Linked DNA regions of Homo sapiens: region 1 is linked to region 2. The links come from fine-mapping of genetic effects on gene expression. A gene starts in region 2. The other region holds a variant in brackets. All regions are shown on one strand. Distances are from middle to middle.

Region 1 (15,345 bases), 29 kb after region 2:
GCTTGGCTGCTGGTTCACTGTAGGCATCCAATAATGGTTGAATTGAGTTGCTTTTCTAGAGCATGTGCCCTCGGCTGAGGAATTGGGAAGGTGGATAGATGAGGAAAGAGCCCACCTTTCCTGCTAGAACACTCAGGGGTCCCCAGTGCCTCTATGCTGGACCTGCTAACTTCTCCTAGGAAAACACCTTCCCAAGCACAGAGCCACTGGCCATCCCAGAGGCTCACTGAATGGCCCTCCTGTATCTCTTATCTTCCTTGCCTGGACCCTCCCCCCTCATCCCCTTCCCCCCTCCGCCCCCGATCTCTGACTCTTGAGTTCTTTTGTTGTGTTTTCAAGCTGAAGGCCCAGCAGACAGAGCCCTCTCACCTGCCCGTGTCTGCTGGACAATGTTGCGGCAGCTCCCAGCTCCCCATACAGTGGCCTCCTCCGTGGCCCCCACTTTTGACAGCACAGCCTGCTTGGCTCCTGAGAAGTGCCCACGTGGCACACCTCACCCCTGCCCCTGCTCTGCCTGCCACCTCTCATGGCACCAAAGGAGCCTTTGTCCCTTCCTCATGGGGGCTCTCAGCAGATGCTGACGTTCTGACTGAAACAGATTTGTAGAATCATGGATTTTGAAGTGGGGACCCAGGTCCCAGTGTTTCAGTGGGTCTTTAAAAAAGAGAGAAAGGGAGAGAGAGATGGAGAGAGAGAGAGAGAAAGTGAGCAACAGCACGAGAGGTAAGAGGCAAAAGCTGAGAGGTAAAACTTACTAACTTAATTTCCCCTCACCAGCATCCACACTCCCAACCTCCTGGAATTTCTTCTCTTCTTTTCAATTTTTAATCTCTTCTTTTCCTCTCTTTTCTCTCCCTCTTCCCCCTTTTCACTCCTTTCCTTCTCCTCTTTCTCTGTCTCTCTCTCAGTTCTGACATGAACACCCCCCCCACCCTCCTGTCCCCCTCCCCTCCTCTCCTCCTCTCCCCTCCTCTCCCCTTCTTTTTTAAGTTTTTTTTTTTTTCTTTTAACTTTCAAGGTCATTCCGGACTCCTGACGCCGCCAGTCCCGCGGTGAGACGTGAGCGCCATTGGCGTCCGTGGCCTCTGTTTCCGTGGCAACCTAGTAACCATTAATTTTCAATTAAAGGAGACAAAAAGCTCGATGACAGCTCCAGGTCTGCTGAAGATGTCAAGAATCTGTATTAATATACAGCAAGAGAGCATAATTGTGTGTCCATCTTCCAGAGCAGCGAAAAATGGAGGGATAATTACCAGCTCGAAAGCCACTCTGTAATTTAGTTCTTACTGTCACCACAGCCCTACACATTAGCATAAATTAAAAGCAGAGTTTATTGTTATCAAAGTGCATTGATATCGCCAGACCTGCTTTCTTCCTTTTAACTGTTTGTTGTGGGTGAGTGACTCCCCAACTCTTGCCAGGGTCTCCCCAGGGTGGGGAGAGTGGAAGTGTGGCTGCTAGACCTGAAAGGTCTAGCTGCCAGCCTCCTTCAGGGCAGGTGGGGACAAGGGTCAGCGTGTTGCCCCTCTGATAGGGTCTGGGGATGATGCAGGGGATGGAGGAGGCTTGGATATTTATTCACCTTTCACATGTAAGTGCTTTGTTTTGCCAACGAGTGCTCCAGCTCTTTGCAGAGGGGGCTGCTGCCCCATCGCGGGTCCCCCTTTAGTGCCTAGTACAGTGCAGGGCAGGTGATGAGTGCTCTAAGGCAATGTGTTAAACAAAGGAATGAGTGCATGTGTAGGGGTGTTCTCCCGGGGTGAATGTCAGTGGAGAGACATTGCATTCCCTGTTCAGGGCGTGGCCAGCTCAGGTGGAGATGCTCCTGTCTGTGGCCCAGTTCCTGCTTGGCCACCCAGGACCCCAGCTCCCCAGAGGGGTCCCTCTGGACCCCACGCCCCTAATCTTGCCGCTTGGCCACCCACCTCCATGGCCTGGGTGCTGCCACGGCCACCGCCTTCATACTCACCTCCGAGTGGTTGGAGAACCTCGAAGTGTCTCGCTGCCAGAGTACCAGTGACAGCCACAGAAATCATGAGTTTCCGTGAATGGGGGATGCGGAGTTTTCTTGTATTCTATCCAGAGAGAGCTGTCCTTCAGAGGGGAATTTAGTGTAATTACCCTTAAGGGAGCGATCCTTACACAGTCAGTCACAACACTGACCTCCTGGCTGAGATTTGACAGCAAAATTGCAGGCTGTGTACTCAACAGAAGGGGCATCCTCCTTTTTTGGGTGTTGAGGGGGGAGGCGGGAAGGAAGGAGGAGGAGGGAAAGGAGACTCAGAGGCTTTGAAAAGAAAAGTGCTGGCTTACAGCTGCCAGGCAAGCGGGTTCTCCTTGGCAAGGCGTCTACAGGGCAAGGAGAAGGTGTCCAGAGATCCCCTGGAACTTCACCTGGCTCATGAAGAGGGGCCAAGGTAGGCACTCCAGCCCTTCAGATCTTTGAGCTCTGGTTTGTGATCTTAGCTAAAGTTAATCTTATTGTAAGAAGGATTTGGAGGGTACTAGGCACTATTTGATGAACTTCTCAGGCATGTTTTCCCAAACATATCTGTCCTCGGTCCCTCCCCGGTGCTAGAAGTTCCACTGTTCCTTTTACCTTTAAGTTGACAGATCCAAGACCCTGTAAACCTGCATCTGGGTTACCTGGAAGGACTAATGTGTTAATCTGTGACCACTCCAAATTTAGCATGGATGCATCTCTCAGATGTGCTGGCCCATCACATGACTGAAGCCAAAGGACACAGGGGTCAGGCAAATTTCCGTGAAGGATTGGAAAAAATCTGTTGTATGGGTAGATCTTGATGGACTGTGAAGCCTGGCAAGGAATGGAGGTAAATCCCCAAATCTCAAAGCTGGAAGGGATCCCAGAAGCCAACGGGTCCAAACTTCGCAGAGAAGGAGTCCCCACCTCTCTGTTCTACCTCTACCCAAAACTCAGGGCTGGGCGCGGTGACTCACGCCTGTAATCCCAGCACTTTGGGAGGCCAAGGCAGGCAGATCACCTGAGGTTAGGAGTTTGAGACCAGCCTGGCCAACATGGCAAAACCCCGTCTCTACTAAAAATACAAAAATTAGCCAGGCATGGTGGCACGCGCCTGTAATCCCAGCTACTTGAGAGGCTGAGACAGAAGAATCACTTGAACCTGGGAGGTGGAGGTTGCAGTGAGCCAAGATAGTGCCATTGCACTCCAGCCTGGGTGACAAGAGTGAAATTCTGTCTCAAAACAAAAAACAAACAAAAAACAAAACAAAACAAAAAACAACTCAGCCACCTCTGCCCACACAATTCCTAATAGCACGAGCTAGCTGTCTCTATAGAGGTCCATCCTGCTGTTAAATAGCCCGGACCATTGCCAAATTCCTCCTGAGTGCAAATGAAAATCTGTGTCCGTGAAACTTCTTCCTTCCTTTTGGAGCCCCTTTGGAACAAATCTAGGCTTTCTCTGGCGGGACAGCCCTTCAGCTACGTGGGGACCATGCTCAGCTATTAGTCGTCTTCTCCTCCAAGTCTGGGACCCAGTAGACTCATCACCATCTGGCTCATCCTTTCAGGAAAGTGCCCAAAAGGAGTCTGAAAGGGCACAGGACAGCCCAAAATGCAAATCCAATGTTTATTGAGCATCTGCTATGTTCCAGGCAGAAACACCCACCATATCTCTTTTCTTTTTTTTCTTTTTTTGGAGACGGAGTCTCGCTCTGTCACCCAGGCTGGAGTGCAGTGGCACGATCTCAGCTCACTGCAGCCTCCACCTCCCAGGTTCAAACAATTCTCCTGCCTCAGCCTCCCAAATAGCTGGGACTACAGGCTCATGCCGCCATGCTCAGCTAATTTTTTGTATTTTAGTAGAGATGGGATTTCACTGTGTTGCCCAGGCTGGTCTCAAACTCCTGAGCTTAGGCAACCCGCCCGCCTCGGCCTCCCAAAGTGCTGGGATTACAGGTGTGCACCACTGCGCCTGGCCCCATATCTCTTTTCATCCTCTCAACCAATTCAATGAAGGGAGGATATATTATTCCCATTTTACCGTAGAGAAAAGAAGGACGCAAGAAGCTTCAAATCACTTGCCCCAAATCACCTGCCAGCAAGGGGCAGAGCCAGAACTGGGAGCCCAGACTCCTGACCCAGGCCAAAGACTTTCCTTGAGAATCCAGCTGCGTTGGTCCCTACACCCCTTGGCCACCACTGGGTTTGGGGAATGAGCTCTGCCATCATTCTCCTGTCTCTCTACCTCCATGATGCTTTTCTGCAGGGCCTTTCTCTCCACTTGGCAGGGAGAAGGAATTCCAGGGAAAACCCAGCTTAAGTCCTGCATCCTCCCTGAAGGCTTCCCTGCCCATCCCAGGCCTCAGTAACTGCTTCAGTATAATGACAACATTGGACGTTATTTACTGACCACAGGACTATGCTTCAGCACCTACCCTAAGGTATTTTATTCAATCCTCCAGGCTTTTGCCCTGGCTGAGGGTTCTGCCTGAGCTTCTCTCCCCTCAGATACCTGCATCTCCTTGAAGGACCACCTTCTCTGGGAGGTCCAACCTAACCATCCTTTCCCAGGTCTTTGTACCCGCTTTATTTCTTTCTATAGCTCATGTCACCTTCCGAAGAGTATTTAATTTACTGATTATTGTGCTCATTGCCTATCTTCCTCCTCTTTAAGTTCCAAAAGGACAGAGGCTGTATTTTGTTTACTGTTGCATCCCAAGCACCTAGAACAGTGCCTGACATACGGTAGGTGTACAAGCGATATCTGTCAAATGACAGGAGGAAAACTCAAAACCCTTTGAGGCAGGTGTGTTGTTTTCACAGCAGAGAGGAACTAGGGCTCTAGTTCTGGGTTAGGTGGCTTGTCCAAGGTCACAGAGCTGGCCATACCCAGCTGTGTATTGGGCTGCTGAGTATGAGGCTGTTTGGGGTGGGCCTTGAGCCTGAGCCTGTTCTGAGCTTTGTGTGTGTGTGTGTGTGTGTGTGTGTGTGTGTTTGGTGGCTTCCTAGGGGATTTCTGCCTGCATTCCAACCAGCAGGTCCTTCCAGGCACCCCTCCCCTCCTTTACAGGGCTTCTTCCCTTCCTGCAGCTCCTTTCAGCCCCTGCTTTCTTGCCCCAAGCCTGGAGAGGCCTGTGAGTGCAGTCCAGCTAACTTCCCTCCCCTGAGCTCATGGGTCCCTGCCTGGGCTGAAGTCCACACCGGGAGCCCAAGGTGCCCCTGGAAGGCCCCCACCCTGGCCTCCGAGTGGTTCCTCTCCCCAGAGATGTAAATCCGGGCCCCAGAGTGGCCACACAGAACATACATCTTAAACAAACACTTCTCCTTGCTGTTTATCTCCCTGGCCTTTAAACAAACTCTTTCAAAGGTTTCTGCTGATAGGAGAGATTTACTGAAAACCATTCCTTGCTTAAAAGCCCTGGGTTTATGCTGCTGGGGTGGGGGCAGTGGGGCCTTCAGGCCTGGGGTTTCTCTGCCTCCGGACCACATGTTTATCCTCCAGGCCTTGATAGAGGAGCAACACAGACTAATCTTTATGGAAAAGAAAATAATAAAAGCAGGAAAGGGGAGGGGTGGAGGCTGGGGTGCGTTTGGTTCTTGTCACTGACTCCAAGAGGTTGTGGCAGGTCCGGGTGTGGCAGTGCCCACCACACTGTAGCCCTGCCTGTTGGGGGTGGGGTGAGCTGAGCATCTGGGAGGGGTGGGGCTCCCTTGAACTTTGGACAGAAGGCCTTTGGGCAGGTGAGCCTCTTCTCCGGCTTCCAGAGGCCAGAGTGGGCCTCTCCCTGCTGGATGGGGGTTGGAGGGAGGGCAGCAGTCACATGATCATGTCTATTCCTGCATCAACCAACAGTCAGAAGGCACCTAGCCTGTGCCAGGACCTGGGGGTGGAGAGAGGAATAGTTGTTAACAATTACTTTAGCATTTCTGTGGGCCTGGTACTGTTCTAAATCGCTTACATGAATCAACTCATTTAATGGCCCCAGTAGATTCTATAATTATCCCAATTTTGCATATGGGGAAACCAAGTCACAGAAAGATTACTGGCTGTACTCCAGAGGTTTTGGTTTAACTGGGATGCAGGCTGGGCATTGGATTCCAGGATGCATCCCAAGTGGAAAAAGATTGACATTCCCATTTCCCACCCACTCCCCACTTGTCCTTCCAATAATACAGTATCTCTTCCATTTCAAGGCGTCTCACAATTCATTGACAGTGGTATTTTTTTCTTAGTGGATCGTAAAATAATGGTGCATCTTACAGTCTTAGGTTCAACAAAATATAGTAATAGAAAACTAACCTCTACCAACTGTGGGGACTGAGCTGGATGATTTGCATCCATTATCTCATTTAATCCACCTCCCAAAGCTGCAACATAGGTCACAGGAGCACCTCTGATGAGAAAACTGAGGCACCAAGAATTCAATAACCTGCCCAAGATCACCCAGCTGGTGGGAGGTGGAGGCAGGATTTGAACCCACAGTTAAATGGCCTAATATTTATCCCCAACCCTTATAGAGCACCTTATATGATTCAAACTGTCTTCCGACCTGTTTTGTCCATTGAGGAAGACGCTGAAATCCAGAAAGTTTAAGTGACCTGCTCTAAGTTACACATCTGACTTCTCAACCTATAACTGTGGGAGAACCATGGGAAGTGGGTTTCGTTGTTATTATTGTTGTTTGCTTGTCTTAAGCCTACCTGGGCTTTTATAGCTAGAAGCCACTCCTAAGAGAACATGACCAGGAAAGTGGGCCAGGGCCAGGGCAGGGGCCCCTGAGAGTATGGGCCATCCTGGGGTCTTGGGTGCTGAAGGTTGGAGCCAAGGCCTGTCGTGGGACCTCCCAAGGGCAGAGGACTTGAGCAGGGGCAGATGTCATTGCAAAGACTCCACTGACTTCCGTCTCTGTTTTGTTTGTGAAGCGAAGTTGCTGCAGTGGCAGGTGGGGAGGCAGCAGAAGGCCAGGTAGGAATTTCCAGTCCTTCCCTGGGCCCATAGCTCAGGCCGGAAGCCACTCCCTTCCTCCATGTTTACATGCAGCGGGCCACACCCCTTCAGATGGCACAGACTGACACCCCCTTCCGGTCCCCCTGCTCCAGGCCAAATACTTTTTCACTCACGTTAAAGCACCTTTCAGCACCTGGGCCCTGAGCTGGGGAGCATTTCCAGGGAGGAAAGAAGGGAGAGGGTATGAGGAGGAGGCTGGGGGTGGGTTGAGGGAAGGTGAGGAGCTGGGGGTAGTGGAGACTAGGATGAAGTTATGTGAGTGATTGTCTTGCACCCATCATCTTTCTTTTTGTATTATTCTTTCCTTATATAGTGACATCCAGTTTCCAAAACCTTTCCTTCCTCCTAGCAACTCTTACCCTAAGATACTTAATTCACACCAAGGTAAACACGACTAATAACAGCTTCCAAAGTGATCCTTTCAAGGGCATTTTGGCAGTGGCCTCTTTATTTGTTCATTCATTCTTTGATTTCCTCAACAATTTCCTTTGGCATTCCTGGAGACCCTCCATCCTATCTCGAAGGCTTAGCTGGGACACCTCTAAGCTGTTTGGTGGGCTGCTGTCCAAACTCTGGGCTTTGTGGGTAGTGGCATCCACACCCTCTGACAGCATGTAGGTATATTGGCAGCAACCCAAGCTGTCTTTTTTGCACCTTCAATGGAAGGAAAGGCAATTTCTCCTCATGAAAAAAGTTTGGGAGACTTTACCTAAATGTAAAGGGAGGTGCTTTAATGATATATCTCCAGGAATCAAACCCATCAGTCCATCTGAGTTTGGTCATGGGCTGAGCTCCCCAGGGCAGCTGGGCAGGAGCCCTTCCAGGACATCAGAACTTGGGGTAGAATTTCCACCCCACTGGCCCTCAGGGCTCTGCATAGATTTCTCTCTCTGTCCTTCTTGGTAGGGAAGTGGCTGATCATGAGGAAGACCCTGAGCTCAGAGCTGGAAGATATCCAGGGACCCATCCACCCAGTAGTTTGCAGAGGACAAAATGACTCAAAAGTATACCGAAATCCAAAATATAAAACAGCTAAGAGTTAAAGCTCCAGTTGAAGGCAAAGGTCTAGACCCTGCCTCCTCTGCTCTCCCACTTGGCCCATAAGTGGTCCAAAGCTTCTCTGTGGACCTCCAAAGCTCAGGAGAACACGAATAGAATCCACTGAGCCAGTCTAGTGATCCATTTTATAGACAAAGAAACTGAGTCAGAGCATGATGGGATGGATGTGAGTCCTTAGGGGCCTCCACCCTTCCATGATCACTTCTGGCTCATGTTCATTCCCTGGACTCATAATGTACCCTTCTTTCTAACTTGACCTGCACAATTCTACGGACTCTTCAGGCTCAGCTCAAATGTCACCCTCCACCATGGAGCGTTCCTCAATTCTCTCCTCCAGTTCTGGCCCTACTCCCACCCAGTTCGGTGTTCCTGGAGCTCACTGCTTTTGCATCTCTCTTAAGTTCAACCTCTCATTTCTGCCCATTTGAAGCAGCTCTTTTCTCCCTTGTCAGGCTGTTGGTCTCCTTGAGGTCAGGAGGTTTTTAAAAAATCCCAAGCCTCCAGCCCATGAGTAGGTGTGCAATCACAGTGAGGCTGCTGACATGTTTTCTTGGGTGATGGTGAGATGCTTTGCCCACTGGGGTCAGGGTCTCCCTACTGGACGGCCCTAGTTCTCATCAATTTGGTGGGGAGGGCATAGAGTTTGATTAAACAGTTACTTGGATACCTGAAGTAGGGCAGGGAAGGGGATACAGAACCTTCAGAGCCTGGGGAGGAGGGACCCTTCTGCTCTAAATTGTCCACTCGCTCCATCCTCAAGAAGATGGAGAGCAGAAACAGGGGCAGGGGAAGAGAGCTGGGCCCCGCACACTTCCCACCATCACTGATTTCCCTCTTCTCTGGCATTTTAAGAGCTCAGACTCAAACCCTTCAAGGGCTTTTGAAACAATTAGATTTGAAAGTGCCCAGTGCTTGGTCTAATTGCTTAAAAGCCACTTCAGGCTTCAACTGACCCAGAGTAAAGCCTGGGGGGTGGGTAGAGGGGAGGGGAGACCCGAGACACTCTGTCGCCCTGTTTCCCAGGCCTTCCTGGACAACCAAGGCCTAGGTGAGTGGTGATGCCAAATAAGGGCCTTCAACTTTTCCCGGGGGGGCAGAGCCACCATACTCTTCCTGCCCCTTTCCCAGCCCTTGCCCCCAGGGAACCGCTCACATCTAACCTTTCTCTAAGATACCTTCTCACGCAAATTCCAGCATTCCTAGGGGTGATTGGAGCACTTATGTCCAGAACCAATTTTCAGTGTCAAAAAGTGGACTGAGCCAGTGTAAAGAGGCCGAGAAGTATCAGGAGACAAGCCTTGGTGTGTCCAACTCAAGATGATGCTTTGCTTCTGGGATATTCTGAGATTGGGGATTTTGCAATCTCTAAGTCAGTTCCATCTCTCCATGCTTTCGTGATTACTCTTCTCCCAAGTTCTTTTTTTTTTTTTTTTGAGACAGAGTCTTGCTCTGTCACCCAGGCTGGAGTGCAGTGGCGCGATCTCGGCTCACTGCAAGCTCCGCCTCCCAGGTTCACACCATTCTCCTGCCTCAGCCT[C/G]CCGAGTAGCTGGGACTACAGGCACCCGCCACCAGGCCCAGCTAATTTTTTTGTATTTTTAGTAGAGACGGGGTTTCACCATGTTAGCCAGGATGGTCTCGATCTCCTGACCTTGTGATCTGCCCGTCTTGGCCTCCCAAAGTGCTGGGATTACAGGTGTGAGCCACCGCACCCGGCTCCCAAGTTCTTTAAAAAATATATCTATATCTATATATATATATATATATATATATATATAAAATATATTATATATATATATATTATATATATATATTTTATTTTGTTTGAGACGGGGTCTCGCTCTGTCATCCAGGCTGGAGAGCAGTGGCATGATTATGGCACACTGCAACCTTGACCTCCCAGGTTCAATTGATCCTCCTGCCTGAGCCTCCCCAGTAGCTGGGACTACAGGAGTGTGCCATCACATCCAGCTAATTTTTAAATTTTTCATAGAGATGGGGTCTCACTGTATTGCTCAGGCTGGTCTCAAACTCCTAGCCTCAAGTGATTCTCCTGTGTTGGCTTCCCAAAGTGCTGGGATTATAGGCATGAGCCACCGTGCCCAGCTTTAAATACAGTTGCAGCGTAAAATTCTTCTCTTTGGCTTAAGACCTTGCAATGGCTCCATGTTAGATAGGAGCCATTTCAATGTTAAGTTACAGAGAAGCTCCCCCAGCCTTCCAGCCCCTCTGTAATTTGCTCCCACCTCACCTTTCCAGCTCCATCTGCCCTGCGTGCCCTTGGCTCCAGCCCACTGTGGTGCCTTTTCACAGGCCATGCTCTTGGCCTCCATTCCTTCACCATCTGAATGAAGTCATCTGTTTATGTGCCCAGCAACAGGCCAAGCAGAGGGGATACTGAGATAAATGAGCCACGGTCCCTGCTCTTGGGGGGACACATTCTAGCTGGGACATGAAAACATAAACAGATGATTCCTTTGCCAAATTCTTCTTGAGCACCTCTATGTGCCAGACCTGAGGACACTGAGGTGGACAAAACAGATAAAGTCCCCACTCTTGTGGAGCTTAGATGGTTGAAGGAGAAACAGACAGAAACACATAAGCAAAGAGATATGCAGTCTGTCATGGGGAGATGAATGTGTGAAGTAAAACAAAGTAGGGGGGAAGAGAAGGACCTTGGAGGTGAGGATATTTGAGCAGAAATCTGAGTAAAGGGAAGGAACTGCTTGTGCAATGGTCCTGAGGCAGCAGTGCCTTTGGGTTTAACGAGGAGCAAGGAAAGAGACCAGTGTGTCTGGGGAAGAGTGAGTGAGGGAAGGAAGAAGGGAGAAGAGTAGAGGGAGCAGGGGGCAAATCATGAATGATACTATAGCCCCGCCAGGCCTTCGGATCCTATAGTGAGATGAGAGCCACTGGGGATATTGAGCAGGGGGTGAGGTCAGTAAACACATGTCTTTTTTTTTTTGAGAAGGAGTTTTGCTCTTGTTGCCCAGGCTGGAGTGCAATGGCGCAATCTTGGCTCACTGCAACCTCCGCCTCCCGGGTTCAAGCGATTCTCCTTCCTCAGCCTCCTGAGTAGCTGGGATTACAGACACGTGCCACCACACCCGGCTAATTTTGTATCTTTAGTAGAGACGGGGTTTCGCCATGTTGGTCAGGCTCATCTGGAACTCCTGACCTCAGGTGATCTGCCCGCCTCGGCCTCCCAAAGTGCTGGGATTACAAGCGTGAGCCACTGCGCCCAGCCCAAACACATGTCTTAAAAGGCTCACTTTGGCTGCTGGTGGAGGACAGCCTAGAGGAAGGGGCAAGAGTGGAAGCAGGGAGAGTAGTTAGGGAGCCACTGCAATAGTTCAAGCAAGAGATGGCAATGGTCAGGGTATTAAGAAGTGGTTAAATTAGTGATAGTTATAATAGAGTGTAGATACTAGTATGAGAGCACAAGCCGGGGACTCCCTGCCAGACCTGGAGGCGGGAGTGGGCTGTTGACAAGAAAGGATTGCTGCAGGTTTGACCATGAAGCCAAATCTTCAAGAAGAAGGAATTCGTAGAGACAGGAGGTGAGAAAGTGGGGCAGAGGAGCAGCACACACTGCAGTGTGTACTTCATGTCTTGCAGGGACCTGGGGGCAGTGTAGATAGGCCAGAGCATCATTTAGGGGCAGGGAGTAGGGCAGGCTGAGGCTGGAGGGCTTGAGAGGGGCTGGACACCAACGTCAATGGCCAAGTTGAATTTGGGTCTTCTGTGTGCAGCAGGGAGCCACGGAAGAGTGTTAAGCATGGCTGCATCATGATCCAGTTTGTGTTCAACAAAGATCACTGGCTGTGGAGGGGTGGGCAAAGGACTGGGGCCTGGAGGACCAGTTAGGAAGCTGTTGTGGTGACCTGGTGATAGATGAGAGTGGCCTGGACTACAGGGGCTGTGATGGGGCTTGGAGAACTGTTTAGAAAGGAAAGTTGCCAGGATGTTCAGATGTTGGCTGATCAGGCAAAGAGATTAGAAAGCAGAAGGAAGAAAGAGTGACCCACCTCCAGCTCCAGTGCCTGTAGACAAGGGGCCCTAAACTTAGGGCCCTCCTTTGGCCCTCCTCACAGGGTAGGAGTCTGTTCAGAAGGAGGGAGCCACCCCCACTCCTGAACCATGCTCCAGATGCCCAGGGCCCTAGAAATCCCTGCCCTAAGGGCCTGTACCCTGCATCCAAGACCTCTGCAGGCCACCTCCCCAGGTTCAACCTCCAGAGGGTAGCCTGTGTCTTGGCTGTGAGTTGAGTGTGGGGCATGCAGTCAGCAGCTGTGTGTGCGGATTGGAGTATCTACACACATGCTCGAAGCCCTAGTTTAAGGTGAAGGTGGGGATGGGAAGGGAAGAGGCAGGCTGAGGGCAGGGCTGGGGGAGAGCAGAGGGAGTTTCTCCCCACTCCGTGTCCCTGTGTAGAACTCCAAGAAACCTGAGAACTCTAAATTCAAATCCAGCCTTCCAGATCTTTAGAAGGTGTATGAATAGAACATATTTTATTAAACAGTTTGTTAACTTGATTTTTAACTTTTAAATATTTAGACATATGGAATGTGGGTCTCCATTTGTACTTTTGCTTGGTCTAAGAGGGGTGAGTGGAAAACTCCCAAGGGCCAGGATTATGTCTTATTTGTCTTGTTCACCCTCCCCCATCCCCCCAACCTTGGACCCCTGGACCTTGGTAATTTCCATCGAACTGGAAAAAGAATGAGATCCCAGCCTGATAGTGAGACATACAGATTTGACAAGACCCCAGTAGGCAAAAGAAAGGTTGGTCAGGCAACTGACTGCAGAGGGCTTTGGAGGTGTGGCCAGTGGCTGGCGAGGAAGCTGACCCAGTGTCCAGGGGGTTAAGAGCAGGCAGACCACCTGGGTTCAAAGCCCAGTTCTGCTCTTTAGGACTGTGTGGCCCCAGCAGGTTGCTAGCTCCTGGTGCATCAGCCGCCTTCTTCTAAGACAGGGTAACGATAATAATCCCTAATGGCCCCAACCGTCTAGTTTACCGGGGGAAGATGTAGTGTTTGGCATGTAGTGAGTTCTATGAAAGTTTGTTATCATGTGAAATGACCCCTTGGAAGGAACTCTTAAGCCCAGCTAAGGGGCAGCTCCTGGCAAATCAGAGAAGGAGACGTTGGTTTTGGTGCCAGACTTTTCTCCTCCCACTTTCAAGATTCCCCATAGCAGATGGGGGCTCAGTGACTAGGCTGTTCCCCCTCCTCTACCAGGGCTGTCTGTGGCCTGGGGTAACTCCCTCTATTCTCTGTGTCTTCAAGCTCCACCAGCTCCATCCTCTTGTTCCCTGGGGACTTTGCCAAGCAACGCACTTGCTAATCCTGGAGGACCTCATTCACAGGAAGATAGTGGGCCCAGTGCTGTGTTGAGTGTCCCAACTGGTTATCTCATTCAATCCTTTTTTTTTTCCGTCAGGGAAGTTGAGACAAATTGTTCACTTCTTTTAATAATCCTCTGAGCACTGTTCCAGATATTCTTATCCCTATTTCCCAGAGGAGACCAGAGCAGAGAGAGGTTAAGTATTTCAGTATTTCTCAGCCGCAGAGCTTGGACTAGAATCCAAGACTGTGTGGCTCCAGAGCCCACTCTTGACTTCGATAAGTCCTGCCTTAGTCAGAACTAGTGGGATACTCCTGCTTAGGAAAGAGGTGGGACTTTCTGGAGCCAAGGCCGTGTCCCACAGGAGGCACTCTGATGGGACGGTAGACACTGAGGCAGGCTGATGGTGGGTTGATGTTCTGGTTTGTTGGGGAGAGGAAGTTCTTTTGGTTTCCTTCAGATTATTGCTAAGGGCCTTCCAGGCAACCAACCAACCAACCAACCAACCAACCCATCAACCCTTTCTTTTCAAGGGACATGACTATGGGTGGGTCTGAAAAGACAGGTGCTTTGTGTGTTGAAAATCCTGAGGCAGAGAGCTCTGTTTGGCAGTGAGTGTTCCAGACAGAGGAGATTCTATAGAGACAAGGAACTCCCCCTTCCACACTCCAGCCCTGTCTCAACCCTACAGCCTGTCCCTACCTGGGTGCTGTGGAGGCAAGTTGATAACATGGACCCTCCGAAAGCTGCCAGCCTTGGGGATCAAATGCCTGTGAAATAACACGCAGGCATCACATGTTTGTTGAGTGGAGACAGAGATGCCACGTCCTGGTCCTTGCTCTCTAGAGCTTCCAGTCTCCTAGCAGGATGGGCATATACACTGGGGAAACTATCCCATGGAAAGAGCATCGGGGAGCCTGGCCCTGTGGCCCTGACGAGAACTCTGTGTGACTTGGACAAGTCACTCACCCTCTCTGATCTTGGTTTCTCACCTGTGAAATGAGAAAGTTAGAATTGATCACTGGGTTAAACCTTGTTTTTCCTCTTAAAATTAGCTGTAATGAAATCCAACACAGAACTCTGCTATAAAAAGTAGAGCCACTCTGCTTGTGAGAGGCGGGAGCCAACCTTCTCTGGTTTCTTCCTCTTCCTTCAGGATGATCCCCAAGGGCGGCTCTCAGTGTCTTTCACTGAAGGCATGACCCTCATGGAGCAGCTCAGGAATGGCCTCACGAGGCAGTCCCCGAGGGCTTGAAGGCTAGAAGGATTTTGATGAGTGAAGGTGTGGGGAGGGCACACCGGGCAGGAGGTGCTGTTTGAGAAAAGATGCAGACAGGGAAGAGCCAGCCTGGCTGGGGGTGGGAAGTGCTGGAGGAGAGGGAGTGCAAAGAACCCAAGAAAGAGCCCTAAGGGGATGCCCATGGGAACTTCACCAAGGGGAAAAATGATATCTTCAACTGGGAACTCAAGTCCAGGCCCCCTTCCTACAGAGATGGGTGGGGTGTATACTCTGCTGTGAGGGGAGGGAAAGAACCAGCATCAAGGAAACGATACAGTGTCCACTTTGGAGGTTGCTTTAATGGTGAAATTAGTGAAGCTAGCTAAAGCCTCAGGACAGAAGGAATGCTACATAGGCATTTGTTAAATACGGTCATACCAGAGTGGACCCTGAGGTTGCCAAAGGTCTGCATCCCTCCTGGCCTTGGGCCCAGTGCTGGTGGTGATAGCTTAGAATTTCAGCAGCTTCTATGCTCAACAGTTACAGTGATTATGAGATGTGTGTGTACGTGTGTGTTGGGGGCATGTGGCTGCAGGTGTCTTTCAGCCACCTTCTAACATGCATGCTAGTGCACACACACACACACACACACACCCTCTCTTAGTCTTTTCTCTGGAGCTGGTGCACTCCTCACCACCCCCACCCCTTCATCCTCCATATCCCCACCCC
Region 2 (15,345 bases):
CTTGGGTTTTTCAAAAGGAGCAGAAGTGGGGATATTTATGTGAAATTTACCATTGTAATGAACTGTGTGTGGGTCAACAAAACTCAGCAGGGATGAAGTTAGTCCACTTGTGACCTCAGCCCTTATGGCCAGCATTTCAGAAAGGCAAGTTCCAGTTAACTGTGACTCGGGGCAAGTCAGGTAACCTCTCTGGGCCTGGGTACTTCACCTATCAAATGAGAGTGATAATTACCACTGCCTGGAGAATCTTTCAGGGTTGTTGTGGGGATAAGAACAAGGAGGTATGTGAAACGGCAAAGCACAGTTCCTCAGTCAGGGCCTGGTGACTACCTAGCTCTACCTGCCACAACAACCTCCCAGGTTTCCTAATAGGGATGTCCTATTAGAACTTCCTTCCCCCATCTTCCATGCAGGGGGCAGAGCAAGGGCTTCCAAGTGTCCTTGAAAATGCTGAGGGCTTGTTCCTGCAGATATCTGACCTGACTGTTGGGAGGCTTGGAGGTACCACACACCTATGCCCTCTGCCCTGTGTTTTAATGGATCAGTTCTGGCAGGGGCAGCAGCTTCTGAATGACAAAATCCTGAGGGTTAAAAGGTCCCTAGCTTGGTCCTTCTCTACCTCCTCTGTCCCCAACTAGGGTGCAGTCTGTTCCCAGCTCTTCCTCCCTCCCCTAGTCCTCCTAAGTTTCTCACCAGAAGCCCCTGGAGCACACAGGATCACGGCCAAATTCCCAAAGGGTGAGATTCTGTTTACTTAAGGAGAGATCAGACAGGGTCCAGGGGAGGGGAAGTCCTCCTGCCCCCACCTCTGAAAGGGCAAATCCCAGCCAGTACCCAGTCCATGGGTATCCATCCAAGCCAAACTGGGCAAAGGGGCACAGAGCAGTGGTTTTATTTTAGAAAATAAGTGCAATTAAAAGAAAGGCAGAAAAAAAGGAATGGGGGAGGAGAAGGCTGCCCTGGTGTGAGGGGGAGGGGGGATGGCGGCACACAAGGGCCAAGCTGAAGCTCGCCTCACCTCGCGGAGCTCTCTCTCCCAACGAGATTCAATTAATTGATAACATGAGGCATCAAATTAATTTCTGGAGAATGTGAGATTCTGATGAAGGGAAATCTCGTCGATGGGGATCGGGTGGGAGGGGGCAGGCAGCACCCCTTTTAATCAGGCTCCACTGCCTAATTGGGAAGGAGGAGACTTGCATGGGTCATAGTGTCCTCTGCCCCGAGCTCCACAGCACCCCTTTCAAGAAGGACCCATGGAAGTAGGCTCCCGATGCCCTTGGAACAAAGAGGGTGTACGTTGAGACCTTCAGGTCTCTTCTTGCCTGGCTCCCAACCCACAGCTTCAGGATGGTGAGCCCGAGGATGTGGGGCTGCAGGTGTCCTCTTCACCCACTGTACAGTTAGGAAAACTGAGGCCCAGAGAGAAGACGGGTCATGCCTAAGGCCGAAGAGTGAGTTAGGAAGTTGGCAGCAGTGGGCTTACCGGGGACCCTCATCATGTACCCGTGTGGGTACAGACTGTTTAGGCCTAGACCCACAAAATCATCTCTGAGCACAATCGGTGGGCAGCTTTCTCTGTGGCTAAACACTGCCATGCTGCCTGAGCCGTCCCCTCTTCCAGTGTTTCCGGATCCCCAGCTGCCGGCCCGAGCTAGCCCAGCTGCAGTTCTTTTCTCTGCGTCTGGTGAGTGCCGAAAACCCCTTGTGTTATATCCCTGTGCTCAGGTCTCAGACATGCAGGAGCTTCCAGCAACTGGAACTGATGCGCTCAGTTAAAAAGGTAAAAACTCACTGAGGGAACAATCCAAAGCGAGCGCTCAGCTGGGGAGGGGAAACAGGTAGCTCTGGCTCTCTGGGAAAGAAAGCTCAGAGGCTTCCTGAAGGAGGGATTCTCTCAGTGGACCAACTCTACACCCTCAGCATGGCCTGACCATCCAGCTTCTCCAGCTCCCATCCAGAGACGCAGCCTCAAAAAGCCTGGCGCTTTGCTCCCTGAGTGCTTACAGCCGCAGCCTCTCGCTGGGTCTCCCACAAATCCTGATGTTTCATATCTCCCCAAAACTCTCCCTAGTGTACCCCTTCCTTCCAGGATGCGGATGTGCATCTGCAGGGGAACCCCAAAGGAAAGGAGGAAGTACACCGCCACCCTCTTTTGAAGCAACTTCTTTAGGCCTGGGTCTCCATAGAAATGTTCTCCTAGAAACGTAAAGCCAGCCGGGAATGGAATCCAAGGAAGCCCCGCTGAGGAGATGAGAACGGAAGCTACCCCAACCTCCCACCCCCTGGTTTCATTTCACACGGGGAGGCCCTCCTAAGGGCTCTCTGGGTGGCACACATGTCCTGTCTCAGCTGGGGGTTTCAGGACCCACGCTGGCTCAGGTGGCCAGTGCCCACAGATCTGTGCTCCGGCCCTTGTTCTATTTCTGATTTTCCAAGTTGCATGTGAGCCACCCCTTCTCCGGGTCCCTCCTGCTGCCCTTCACCAGCCTGGCCTCCAGCACACAGTAGGCGCTCCACAGTGTGTTCGTAGGATGGATACAACTACTGAGTCCCTGGCTCCATTCCCTAAGCCACCCTACCTTCAAGTCGCCATCATTTTGCCACCCCTTTGCTGCTACTTGAGTAACTTCTGCTCCCACCAGTCCTGCCTACCTTGAACAAATGCCGGATGGTCTCTATTCTACATACTGTTAGTCTGAGGAAAACCCACTATGTCGCCCCATTTTCCATTTACATGGTAGCCTGGGTCACAGACCATCAGAACTGCAGCAGGAAAGGAAACACCATTTACCTCTATCTTGCACTATCAACTGGCTCCACCCACCATCAGGCCTGGCTGTGGAGGCTCCAGTTGGCCAGAGCATGGGGCCCAGGGAGGTGGGCAGAGCAGCTGGGATTCAGGGAACAGGCGGCTGTATGGCTACCATCCAGACAGGAGAGAAGGAAGGTGCAGGGCTGTGCCAGAGGGACAGCCGGGAAAAGACCCTGATCTCAAGAGGGATCCTGGGACCAGGATCAAGGCAAGGAGGGCATTCGCCAGGCCCAGGCATGTCCAGCCCGGGCGACACACCACAGCAACAGTGACTCCACGGTCCAACACCTGCGGCCCTGTCCAGATGTGTACCTTTTGTGCCAGGAGCTCTTGTTTTCTAGATCAGGCAGGTGTGCCCTGCGTCCAGGCTCTGCAAGGGCCCAGGAGCAACATCTCACAAGACCACAGCATCCAAAGTGGCAGAATTCAGAGGAAAGAGGGTTCCCGCTGTGATCCCGGCTTGGTGGAACTGGCAGTGGACTGAAGGTGTGTATTTCCACAGAGAATCCTGGGAGGCAACGCTGAAGGGAGCCAATAACTTCAGGCTCAAGGGGAGTTTCCTTTTGCTTCTTTGAGATGATCCATTCAGTGATAGGTCCCAAACTGGTCTGAGACTTGCTGCCAAAATCTTCCATAAGGACGTGTAGGCTAGGGTTTCCAAACCCTAGAAATCTCCCTTTCTGGAGAGAGGGGTTATCAGTCATTTTTCCTCCTCTGCATTCTGGGGAATTCTCTCTCCCATTTATGTGTGTCTCACAAGAACCTTAGGAGTGCCTGGGGAATGCTCCAGGGTTGTGTGCAGGTGGAAACACCAGATTCTGCACCTACAGTCCCCCTCTCCACTTAAAGGGAAAAGAGAAAGTATTCACACTAGAAGGCAGGCGGCCTAGGCCAAGCTTATGGAGGAAGGAGGGAGGAATGGCAGCTCCTCCCATCCCTTCCTTTCTCCCTTCACCACAGCACACGCTCAAGCCCTACTGGTTATACTGGGAGTCGAGGGCCCCATATTTTAGTTCCAGCTGTGCTACCATGTAGCTGTGTAACCTTGGACAAGTTGCCTCTTCTCTCTGGACTTCGTTTTCCCAACCCATAAAATGAAGATTAATACTTCAGTATTTCCATATTCAACCAACATGTGGCCTGGCAGTGCTAGCAAATTAATAATAAACGCCATCCCTTGATCAGTACTACCATGCACCCGGCACCGTGCAAGGTACTTGACATCTGCTCTCTCATCTAACTCCCAAACAGAATCTCTAAGGTGGGTATTATGACCTACTTTACAATGTAAGAAAATTGAGGTTCGAAGAGCTTAATTAAGTTCTCCAGAGTCCCATCTCTAATGCCAAGTTCCAAAGCCTTTTCCACTCTGACACATGTTCTGCCCTGGGGAGGCCTCAGTTCCTTGCTCTGGGTTCCAGAGTTCTGGAACCAAATCTGAGGAGGTCATTCCAGCCAACGGAGCCTGAGAGTCCTGTCAAAAATAGTACCTGCCCTGCCTTGGTCTAGGGAAGCTGGAGCGTGGTAAGATCTGTGAGAAGGGAAACTGTGAGGAGTTTCTTGGATGGAAGAAATTATTATTTCACACAGTTTAGGCTATTCAAAAAATAAAGACATTGTGCCTGCTTAGGATGGGACTGGGGGGCTTGCACTGTGGCTGGAGAGACAGGAAACCGCCAAGGCAGTGGGGTAGGAAGGGTTAAGATGCAGGGAAGGCTTCCTGGGGAGACAACCCTTCCCTCCCCTTGCACCTCACAACTCTCCTCTGAAACAGACACCCTGTTCCCATTCTTCTCCCCTCCACCCTCCCCCCCACCATGTGATATCTGTCTCTCCTACCCCAACAATCTGAGGTCCAGACAGCAGACCCCAGCCTTCACTGCTTGGGTACCCCAGTACTCAGCCTGGGACCTGCCCAGGCAGAGTAGGGGCTCAGCAAACATTTGGGGGAATTACTGGATCAAAAGCAAGCCTTCCTCTCCCAGTCCCTCTGCTTCCCTCCCACCAAGGAAGAGGTATGTTTGGGGTAGGGGCCCAGCAGGATATGCACATTCCTGGCAAGAAGGGACCTACCTGCCTACAGCCAGAACGGAAGTTTTCGGCTCTAAAGGCAGAGGAAGGGGGCTGGGGGCGTCTAGGTGTGAGGAAGATCCCTACACAGAAAGGGACAGGAGCAGGTCCCTTTGCAAGTGGGACCCTTTGCAAATGCTCTGGCCCTGGCGTTCTCCAGCACTGGGGTCAGGTCTTTCTCTCTCCAGGGCTCAGGGGTTCCCCAACTCCGTAACTCCTGGGAAACCTGTCCAGGACAGGGAGAAGGACAGAAAACTCCACCCAGGCGCCCAGCCCTTGGTGCCAGGAGAGAAGGCTCCCATGGTCTCCCAAACTTAGTAGCAAGGCTGGAGCCAGGATAAAGTGGGTCCTGAGGGTCCCGTCCCGCAGGAGAGATTCAGCGCTCACCCTGGCCCTGGGTGTGGAGGCTGAGAGGGGGCAACCACAAAACCACCTCTTCCCCTTGCCACCTTGCCCCACTGACTAGAGTGTGAGTGACTCCCCCAACTCACAGTTTTTTGAGTTTCAGATCGAAAGGGCACCATGGGAGCCAACAAGCTGTCCAGGTACCAAGAGCAGAGCCCCAGTATCCTCCCTCCAGCCACCAGGTAACAGAGCCCCAAAACCCCGAGGCAAAAGTTTCTCAAGTTGAAAAAAAAAAAAAAAAAAAAAGGCCTTCAGACTTCCCCACAGCGGTTTTCCGCGGGGGCGGGCAGAGGTTTTCTGAGGCCGTGGCTCCCCTTCAGGCGGCTGGGTCCACTGGGCCTGGCCTTCGGCCCCTGCACCTACCGGCTGGTTCGCAGCAGGGGGAGGGGGTGGGGGAGAGCTCAAAATGCCCGGTGCCCGCAGGGCATGGCGGTCAGGGGGCCCTTCAGCCCTGGTTTTCTGTGGAAAGTGAGCTTCTGGGTTCGACAGTGGGACCGGCACAGACCTTCCCGCAGCTACAGGCCATACGACAACCCCGCTGCTCTTTCTTTCTGCGGGCACTCGGGCCAGTCCTAACAATTGCCCCTCAAGCTGTGTGTGCTGCCCTAACCCTCAATCCCGAACCCGAAACAGTGCGTGCTGGGACGAATCTAGGCAGGTCTCCGAAACCGGGGTGAAGATGCTGAAGTTCAGGTAAAAACCCGCATTGGCCAAAATGCTCCCGGGCTTTCTCGGGAGTCACCCGAATGGCAACTTCAGGCTCGGGTTTGGTTCTCCGGACTCCCCACCCCTATTCCCGGCTCCAGGCGCCGCGGTCAACCTGCGGGGAGACTAGACGTTGGGGTGCCAGACACGCGGTGATCTCCAGACGCCCGAAACGCCAGGCGCCGAGTGAGCGAGGAAACCAGCCGGGAGGGGGCTGGCCAGGGAAGCCGGGGAGCAAAGGAAAGAGCGGGGCGCGCTCTGGGCTCAGGGTTCCCATACCCTTTCCCCCCAACCTAGGATCGGGGTGGGACGCAGGTGTGTTCACGAGATCGCCCCAGTTGGGGGACACAGGGAATCCGCCGCCGTCTGGGCCTGTCTCAAAATCCGCATTCCGCGAAATTACCCGGTCCTTTATGGGGGCGGCCGGGACCCCAGGTCGCATTCTAGCGCCACTGGCTGTGCTCTGACGCAGCCCAAGGAAGTTTGTTTGGCGTGGATGAGGAGCCCGAGGCTGAAGCGCCGCCGGTCAGAGAGGTGCTGGGGTTGTCCAGGGGAGATACCAGACTCCTCAGTTGGGGCGGGGGGGGGTCCTGCTCGGTCACTCCGGGCTCCTTCCCTGGTGGCCTCCGGGCCCCCGTGGCCGCCCTCTCTTCCCCCCTTAAGTGGTGAAGCGGGAGCTCTCTCCACAGCGGGTGAGTAGAGGTGTCAGCCAGATCGTTTCCCCACCCTCCACCTCCGGCGCACAAATCACAGGGGCCATTTCCAGACGCTCTCAAGTCCCCAAGAAGTTTTCCGCTCTATCCCCGAGCTGACCGAGCGATGGAAAAGGGGCTGACTGGCCCTGGCACTTCCGAGGTGCGACCTCAGCAAGACAAGTCCCCTCTTCACCAGAGACGACACGGCGGGTAGGACCGCGATCCCCCGCTCTCTTGCCCCCATTTTCATCTGTCTCCGGCGCGTCCTGGGGAGTCCGGTACCGACTAGAGTTGGGGGGAGCCACTTCCCTTCCCAGCTCTGGAAAGTCTGGGCCGGGAAGTATTCTTTGTCTGACTCGGGGCGGGGAGGGGGTCGCGCCCCCGTACACCCCATTCCCAGAGGCCCGGCGGGGAGGGGGCGGGGCCCAGATTCTTGGGGAAGGGCGGGCCTCGGTGGCCTCTCCGGCCGCCCCCCTCCCCGCCCCGGCCTCCGGCTGCCCCCACTCCCGCCGCGCCACAGCCCCCACCTGTTCCCGAGGCAGCTCCGGCCCGCTGGGGCCCGGGCCAGGGGCGGAATGTCGCGGCTGCGCGGGGTCAGTGCGCCACGGCCGGCCCTGGCTGGAACAAAGTGCGCCGGCCCGGGCCCGGCTCCTCCTGGCGCCCGGCGCCCAGCGCGTCTCGGGCGGGCAGTTTGCAAACACAAAGTGAGCCAGCGAGCGGGCGAGAGAGTGCGCGAGCGAGGGAGTTGGTCTGGTCGCCCGCCCAGCCCCCACCCACGTCCCTGGGCCCGACCCGCCACCTACCTGTCCCGCCCGGCCGCTCCGTGCGGGCTCCGGCCCGTCAGCCCGCGCGGGGCATGGGGCTCGCTCCGGTCGCAGCCCGGGCCCGCCGCCGCCCGCCGGGGCTGCCCTTCCGCGCCGCCCCGCGTCGCGCAGCTCCCGGGCGTCCTCCCAGCGCGCCGGGCCGACCGCCGCGCGCCTCAACCCCGCCGGGGCATGGCACTTTGTGGGCTGCTTGGCTCGCTCCGGCTCCGCTCTTCCTTCCCGGTCCTTCCGCGACGCTCGTCAGCTCGCTCCGGCTCCCGGGCTCCCGGACCCCGGCGTCCCCGCCCCCGGCCCAGCCCTGGTTCCGGCCCGGGCTCCTCCCCGCCGCGCCGCCGCCGCCTGCGCCGCGCCCTCCTCGCGGGCTGGGGGCTCCGTCCCGGCCGCCGGCCGCCGGCCGCACTGTCCGGTCCGCAGGGACGGCGGGCTCCGGACTCCGAGGGGCTGCGACTGAGCCTGGGCTGCGAGTGGCTGCGAGCGGGCGGCGCGCGGGCGGGGCGGGAGGGGGCGGGGGAGGAGGAGGGTGGAGAGGGAAGGAGGGAGCGCGCGGAGAGCGAGGGAGGAGGGAGCGAGAGAGCAAGCGGCGGAGGGAGGGGAGACCAACTTCTAGTGCTACCATAATTCGCCTAAAGCAGGTGCAGCAACTTTCACCCCGCCTGGCAGCCCGCTGAGAGCGAGAGAAAACCACGTGCACCAAACTTTAGGGGAGGAAAAATGGGAACGTGGGGAGAAGACGTGAGGCGGCAGATCTGAAAAAGATGGTAGGTGGAGGGACCCCAGGGATTCACCCTGGCCTCGGACTAATCCTATGGGGCGCTTGCAAACCCCGGCCATCCCCTGGAGTCTGAAGGTACGGCCAAGTCCTGATCCCACACGGTTCACTGGTTCCCGGCGGGCTGCGCTCGGCGCGGGGAGTGGCCGGGGGCCCAGAGACGGAGCCAGTGTCAGGCCCGGGCCCTGTCTGGCCTCCCTCCTGCTCCCCACTGCGTGGGGGCTGGGGGTGGGCTTCCTGAGCCGAGGGTAGAAGGTGGGGAGGCCCCTTCAGGGCTTTGTGAACGGTCACCCCCTGGCGCGCACTGCCTCCCTCTGCGGAAAGGGAATTTCCCGTAAAGTGCTCTGCGAACCAGTGAAGAAGGGGCCCAAGGCCAGAGCCATGCGGGCAAAGTGAAGTGCAAAGTTGAGGCAATTATCCGGACAAATTAGATTGTAAACAAAACCCCGCGTCTCTGAACATCGCTTTTGCCCAGGGGGACTGGAGGGATTGTGGTGGTGGCGGCGATGGTGTGTTTGGGTTGGGAGGGGGAGGTCTGGGTGAGGAAATGCCCACGGCCCAAGGGGGAGGGCTGTGTTGTTAGCAGACGCACCACTCAGAGTCCCGTGGAAATCTCAATACCCGTCCCCCTCCCCGCCCCACACACGCCGGAAACATCTCCCATCTGTCTGCATGTGTTGGGGGTGGGGAGAAGTGAAGGAGGCCTCAGGGGTCCTCATGAAGTACCCCAACCCAGCTCAGTGATGCCGGGTCCCCATGACCAAGGGAGGATCCTGTTGTGGGATCAGGACAAGAAGACAGTGGCTCTTGAAGCCTCTCCTGGCCCTAAATCCTCAGGCAGGTGGACAAGAGGCTGGCATAGTATGTGAGCCCCTGTGGAGTGGGAGCTGGAAGCCTGAGGTGTGGGGTCGGAGCTGCAAGGATTGATGCTTAGTTGCCTGGGGGGAGGGGATTTCTTGGCCGTTCCAGTGGTCCTTGAAAGAAAAGGGGACCTCAGAGAGGAGGCACCCTCTTGGGTTGTTTTTCATCACTTCTGTCCCTTTTCTGCAATGTTAGTGACACCTGCACAGGTCCACATTTTATGTATTTGCCTTTTTGGGCAGGTGGGACAGGCATACTTAGGTCCTGCTGGAGCGTTTTAGATTTCTAGGTGTGAAATTGTGCAGGGAAGACTCTAAGTGCCATTTATGTGGATATCTCAGTGTCCTTTCCAGTGTGGCAACTGAGATAACCATAGCCATAAGAATAAAATAACAGCTAACATCTGAGTCGTACCACCCACCAGCCATTTAATCTTCACAGTAACCCCAGGAGGGAGATATTTGTATTATCTCCATTTTATAGAAGAGGAAACTGAGGCACAAAGAGATCAAGTAACTTGCCCAGGCTTACACAGCTGCTGGTCAGTGATGAGCCAGATTCCAACTAGAGCCACTTCAGTGAGGACAAGAAAGAAGCTCATGGTGGTCTCTGAAGCGACACTGCCTGCTTGTGGGTTAGCTGAGGGGAAGGATATTCTGGGAGAAAGAAAGCCCTTGGTAGTACTATCTGATTTACCTTCTGTTGAGGCCCAGCTCTGGTGGAAATCATGGTGTGTGGACAGCCCTAGGCCAAGCCTGGAGTGGCAAGTCCTTGTGTCAGACCAGCTGGGCCAGTGACTATGTCCTCAGTTCTCCTTCCTATCCTTCTTGCAGCAAAGGCTGAGGGTGGGGTGAGAACTAGGGGCTTTGGAGACAAAAGAGAGAATTTCTGTAGGGGGGTATTGAATGAGGTGACCTCCGAGGGGCTTCTCCAGCCCTTTTCTGGCTGGTTCACTGAATGTTTTTCCCATCCCCTTCCTGCAGCAGCCCTTGTACCTTACACATGGGCTCACTTGCCCAGAGGGATTGCCCTGGGAAATGCTTCACTTTCAGTTCAGTTTACCCCTCATCTCCAGGCCAGTTCAGTTCCCAGCTCCCTGTGAGCTACAGTGGGGGCTCAAGGCATCAAAAGACCCTGTCTTGTCTTCACCTAAAGGGCATTTTAGCGAGGAAGACAAAGCCTCCCCAAAGAAAGATACAGAACAAATGCCCCGAAATCAAAGAAGCCAGTCCAAAGCCCTTCTTCCTGGTGCAAGAGCTTCGTTAAGAAGGTTGAAAAGAGTAGCCCTTGGCTCCAAAGTGGGAGTGACCGGGAGCAGGCAGGAGGGTCCTCTTTCTGTCCTTGTTCCTTCACAGGACTCAGGGCAGGTGCAGGTGCTTTGGCGGTGGCCGGAACCAAGGCTCATGGCTTGGCCCCTCCAGGGGGGCCATAGTTAAGAGCACAGGGGCTAGAGTCAGGCAGCCTTGGGTTGAACTTCAGCGTCTGTCACTTAACCAGTGTGTGACCCAGGCAAGTTACATGATGTTTGAGTCTCAGTTAACTCACTCATCACCTCACTCATCAATTGGGAGGTTGGGAGGCCTCCTTGGGTGTTTGGGAGGGAGGATGGGCAAAACTTCTAGCCTGGTAATGTGTTCCTCACATGCTTTCCATAATTACTTATTTTCCCCTTGATGAGCTCCAGGGTCCTCACTTAAAATGACGAATGCTGACCTCACAAAACTGCAAATCATGAGTTGCCACTTATTAAATGCTTGCCAGGCAGTCGAATAACGTGCTGTTCAGCTTATCACCCCAGCAATGGTGACTCTTCTGCAGGTGAAGCTAAGAGAGGTCAAATGACTTGCTCAGTTCACATAGCTAGGAAGTAGTGTGGCGAGGACTTGCTCCCAGGTCTCCTGCTTTGAAGCAGACGCCCTTTCCCAAGGTCAGCCGCCACCCTATTGTGGAGGTGAAGTGGGCTGATGGATGAGCTTGTTCCTAGCAGCAGGCCTGATACTCAGGAGTAGGTTGGGGTGGTAGTGGTGTGTACATCTAGAAACATTTGCTTCATTCCCATGGTCCCAACAAACCTAAGCCCAGACAGTTTATGTTTCTATTATTATTATTATTATTGAGACAGAGTCTCACTCTGTTGTCCAGGCTGGAGTGCAATGGCACAATCTCAGCTCACTGCAACCTCCGCCTTCTGAGTTGAAGCAATTCTCCTGCCTCAGCCTCCCGAGTAGCTGGGACTACAGGCTCATGCCACCATGCCCTGCTAATTTTTGTATTTTTAGTAGAGATGGGGTTTTGCCATATTGGCCAGGCTGGTCTCGAACTCCTGACCTCAAGTGATCTGCCCGCCTTGGCCTCCCAAAGTACTGGGATTACAGGCATGAGCCACTACACCTGGCCAAAAACTATTTTTTAGTTATTGAGGAATAAAACTTCATCAGCATAGGCCAGGTGTGGTGGCTCACGCCTGTAATCCCAGCACTTTGGGAGGCCGAGGCAGGTGGGTGGATTACCTGAGGTTGGGAGTTTGAGACCAGCCTGACCAACATGGAGAAACCCCATCTCTACTAAAAATACAAAATTAGCCAGGTGTGGTGGCACATGCCTGTAATCCCAGCTACTCAGGAGGCTGAGGCAGGAGAATCGCTTGAACATGGGAGGTGGAGCTTGCAGTGAGCTGAGATCGTGCCATTGCACTCTAGCCTGGGCAACAAGAGCGAAACTCTGTCTCAAAAAACAAAAAACAAAAATAAAACCCACTTTATCAGCATAATACAGTAACTCCACTCCACTCCACTCCTAAGTATATGCCAATAAAAATGCATATGTACATATGTTCACCAAAAGGCATACACCAGAATGCTAGGCCATCTACTCGCATGTGCTCACTATTCACAACAGCTGTCAACAATGGAATAGGTGACTAAACCACGGTCTTCTCATCCGTGGGCTAGTCCTTGGCAATGAGAATGAGCAAACCATTGCCACGAGCAACAACATGGAGGAATCTCACAAATCCAACGTTGAGCATAAAAGCCAGACACGAAAGAAAACACCGTTTGATTCCATTGATAGGAAATTCAAAACCCAATCCAATGAATTGATGGCATTAAAACTCAGGAGCATGGCTGTTTTAGGTGGGGGTGTGACGGAGGGGCACAAGGGGATTTCTGGGGGTCTTTTTGAATTTGGGAGTTGGTTACATGCATGTGTTCACTTTGTAAACATTAATTGAGCTATACATTTTATGCTTAAAAGTGAAACATGTAAAAATCATTGCTAATATAGGCCTTTCTGTGACTCTCCTTCTTTCCCATTCTCCATCCTTCCCTTGTGGTTTTCTGAAGTTGGCCTTCCCAAGTAAGTTTTCTACTCTTACTCCTTTGGTATTGCTTGGGTATCTCAAAATTTTCTTTTGTTTTAGTTATTTATTTTTATTCACTTTTGGGGCATAGTAAAGTATGAAGCAATTAAAATTTTAAATGAAAGGTAGCCTGCTCCTTGTTTTTACTTGTGTTTTGCTGAACTTCATGCTGCCGAGATGAATGTCTACATGTTTGTTGCATGTGTTGTGTGTGTCTCTAGGTCACTTACTTAAGAGGCTGCTGGAGAGGATTCTACCATATCAGTGTGTCCCATCTTGTTTTGTTACCCAGCCTCCCACTGATGGGGCAGTTCGATTGTAGTGGATATTTGGGTATTATGGTCTCCTTGCTGCAGTAGGCTTCCTTCTGTGACCTCCCTCCCCACTGTGCCTCTCCTTCCCCCTGTGGTTCTTCTGCTCCATAATCTTTTCCCTTTCCCATCTCCCCACTGTTCCTCCATTCCCTGCTTCCCAATCTTTCTGACTGGGAAAGACCTAGGATCTGTGCCGATTGGAGGTGAGGGAGGGATAGGAGAGGGACAGCCTTTTCCTTTTCCACAAAGGCTCCTCTTCCCCAAGATCAATGATGATTTAAAGAAAGAAATATTTCATTAGGGGTTGACATCTTAATGAACCGTGCCAGGAACCTTCAAGGCACTCTCTAGGCTTCCTCGGTTTTAAGCGGGGCTCCTACCTCTGGGGGAGGCTTATCAGTTTACCATATTGCCCCAAGTAGATGACCATGGTAGTGTGGGTAGCTGTGCCAGGGGCTGTGGAGGAGAGGGCCCCCAGGACTGGGGCGAGGCTGGCTTGTCCTTCTAGGTGCCAGGCTGACCGGGTGCCTGGGCCCTTGGAGGTATTTGGAGTTCCTTCTGGGACGTTTAGGGAGTCAGAGACTCAGGCCTTGTCCAAAAGGTGGTGGGCATGGGACTTTGGGCTGATTGGTGGAAAATCAGTCATTAAAGATCAGGAAATAAGCGATAGCTTGACAAGCAGTGAGCAATTTCCCACTAGTTGGAACACAGCATCTTTAGGTCAAATGAGATCCCTACATGGAGGGATTTCTGTGCAGGAAGAGAGCAGGACACACAGAGAGGGGCCAAGAGAGCAGACCCAGTGCCTTATCCCTCCCCCATGCACCCCACCCATGGGGGTGGGGATGGGGTGGAGGATGCATGAGGGTAGCAGAAGCCCCAGGAGTGGGCACAGAGAAAAGAATTCCTTTTTCCTTCATTTAGTTCTTCCTCATCTTTTTTTTTTTTTTTTTTTTTGGACACGGAGCTTCCGCGTTGTTGCCCAGGCTGGCGTGCAGAGGTGCAATCACAGCTCACTGTGATCAACCTCCTGGGCTCAACTGATCCTCCCACTTCAGCCTTCCGATTAACTGTGACCACAGGTGTGAGCTACCATGCCCGGGTAGAGAAGGGGTCTCTGTGTTGCGCAGGTTCGTCTCAAACTCCTGGACTCAAATAATTCTCCTGCCTCAGCCTCCCAAAGTGCTGGGATTGCAGGTGCAAGCCACCTCGTCCGGCCCTTCCTTATCTTTTAAGAGCTATCCCACATTTTCCATCCACTTGAAGACTTTTGGATTTAAGTCTCAATTCTGTCACTTTTCTAGCCCCAAATCCTGAAGCAAGGGGCTTAACCTTAGTTTACTCAACTGCAAGATGGGAAGAAAAATGAGACTCTGGCAGAGAGGTCGTGAGGACAAGTATGGCTCATGTAGGATTCTTCTCAGTTTAGGCATTGGATAGACTATAGCTACTGTTATTCTTTCTTGATTAACCCAGCCCACTTCTGCCTCTTTCCAGGTGCTCTTTAGCACTCCTATGTCATTGATGTTATAATGTGTTGTTAGCTAACTTATTTAATAAGCTCCCAGTAACTTTTAACAAACCCTATTGTTTGTTAACTGTTTAGCCATTTTATGCCTCATTTCTCCAACTAGATAATAAACTCCTTAATTTAGGGACCCACAATTTCAGTCATTTGGGGATTTCTCATTGCATCCAGCTTAATTTCTTTTGCAAGGTAGCTGCACAGTACATGCATATTGATTTGATTATGATTTGATACTTTAGAGCAAAGTTTAAAAAACAAAAAATAGCCTAACGCTTTAGGGCAAGTTGGTGTCCTGCAGGTATCAGCTGCATGTTGTAGGACATATGTAATAACTGTGTCTTCAGTGATCGCAAGGAAAGAGCTAGCTAGGGTCAAGGGGGAAACCTGGGTAGAAAATGGGACAAGGAAGACTCTCATTCCCTCAGAGCCATCCCCTTCTCTCAGAGGGCTGTGCTCCCCATTCTTCTCATCTCTACTCTGGCTCCCTTTCTGCTTGTTGACTTAGGATGTCTTCAGAACTCTGTGCTTAGCAGAGGATGTATTCCTTCCCCATGGAACCTGGAAGACCTGGGGCTTGGAGTCTCAGCTGCTGGCACTGGAGGGTGAGGTGGGATATGAAGGAGGGAAGTTAAAGCCCAGGTAGACTCACATTGAAAATAGCTGCCACCTGTTGAGCATCAACTGTTCACCAGGCACTTTTAATATGTATCTCTGATTCCCACAACAGTCCTATTTTGTTTTTGAGAGAAAGCAGTGCTCCAAATGTCAGAGGCAATGAATGTAGAGTAGAAATAAGTGAAGATAAGAGTGTCTTTATACATCCCTTATTGTGTGTGGCATCTGGCTGGGTCCATGGAGTGGGGCTCACACACTTCCTCATCCTTGTAATTCTATGCCAGGCCTGGGCCCCAGGCCCCAGCTCCTTCCTGGTTCTCCTGCACCCCCTCTTCTTTCTGGTCTTCACCATGTGCCCTAGGGTCTTCTCTCCTCCAGTCCCC

What was found. PIP is the estimated chance that this variant, and not a neighbour inherited with it, causes the effect.
Region 1: its variant is the best candidate, but not a certain one, in a credible set for the expression of FOXP4 in lung (GTEx, PIP 0.77).

What each region holds. Positions count from the first base shown.
Region 1 is chr6:41,509,899-41,525,243 of GRCh38, reverse strand. LINC01276 (long intergenic non-protein coding RNA 1276) reads right to left here. Exons shown (of 3, transcript NR_120347.1): 3 at 5,392-5,868. It overlaps FOXP4-AS1 (FOXP4 antisense RNA 1), which reads left to right. Exons shown (of 2, transcript NR_126415.1): 2 at 1,019-1,349. Among named protein-coding and RNA genes, the nearest start is that of LINC01276, 15 kb to the right of the region's middle. The variant C/G (reference allele first, on the strand shown) is at 9,592.
Region 2 is chr6:41,539,016-41,554,360 of GRCh38, reverse strand. It overlaps FOXP4 (forkhead box P4), which reads right to left and starts at 7,980. Exons shown (of 17, transcript NM_001012426.2): 1 at 7,494-7,980. It overlaps FOXP4-AS1 (FOXP4 antisense RNA 1), which reads left to right and starts at 5,740. Exons shown (of 2, transcript NR_126415.1): 1 at 5,740-5,983. RefSeq lists silencers at 6,664-6,813, 7,104-7,283, 7,354-8,033, 8,364-8,633, 9,676-9,970 and enhancers at 8,184-8,293, 15,334-15,345.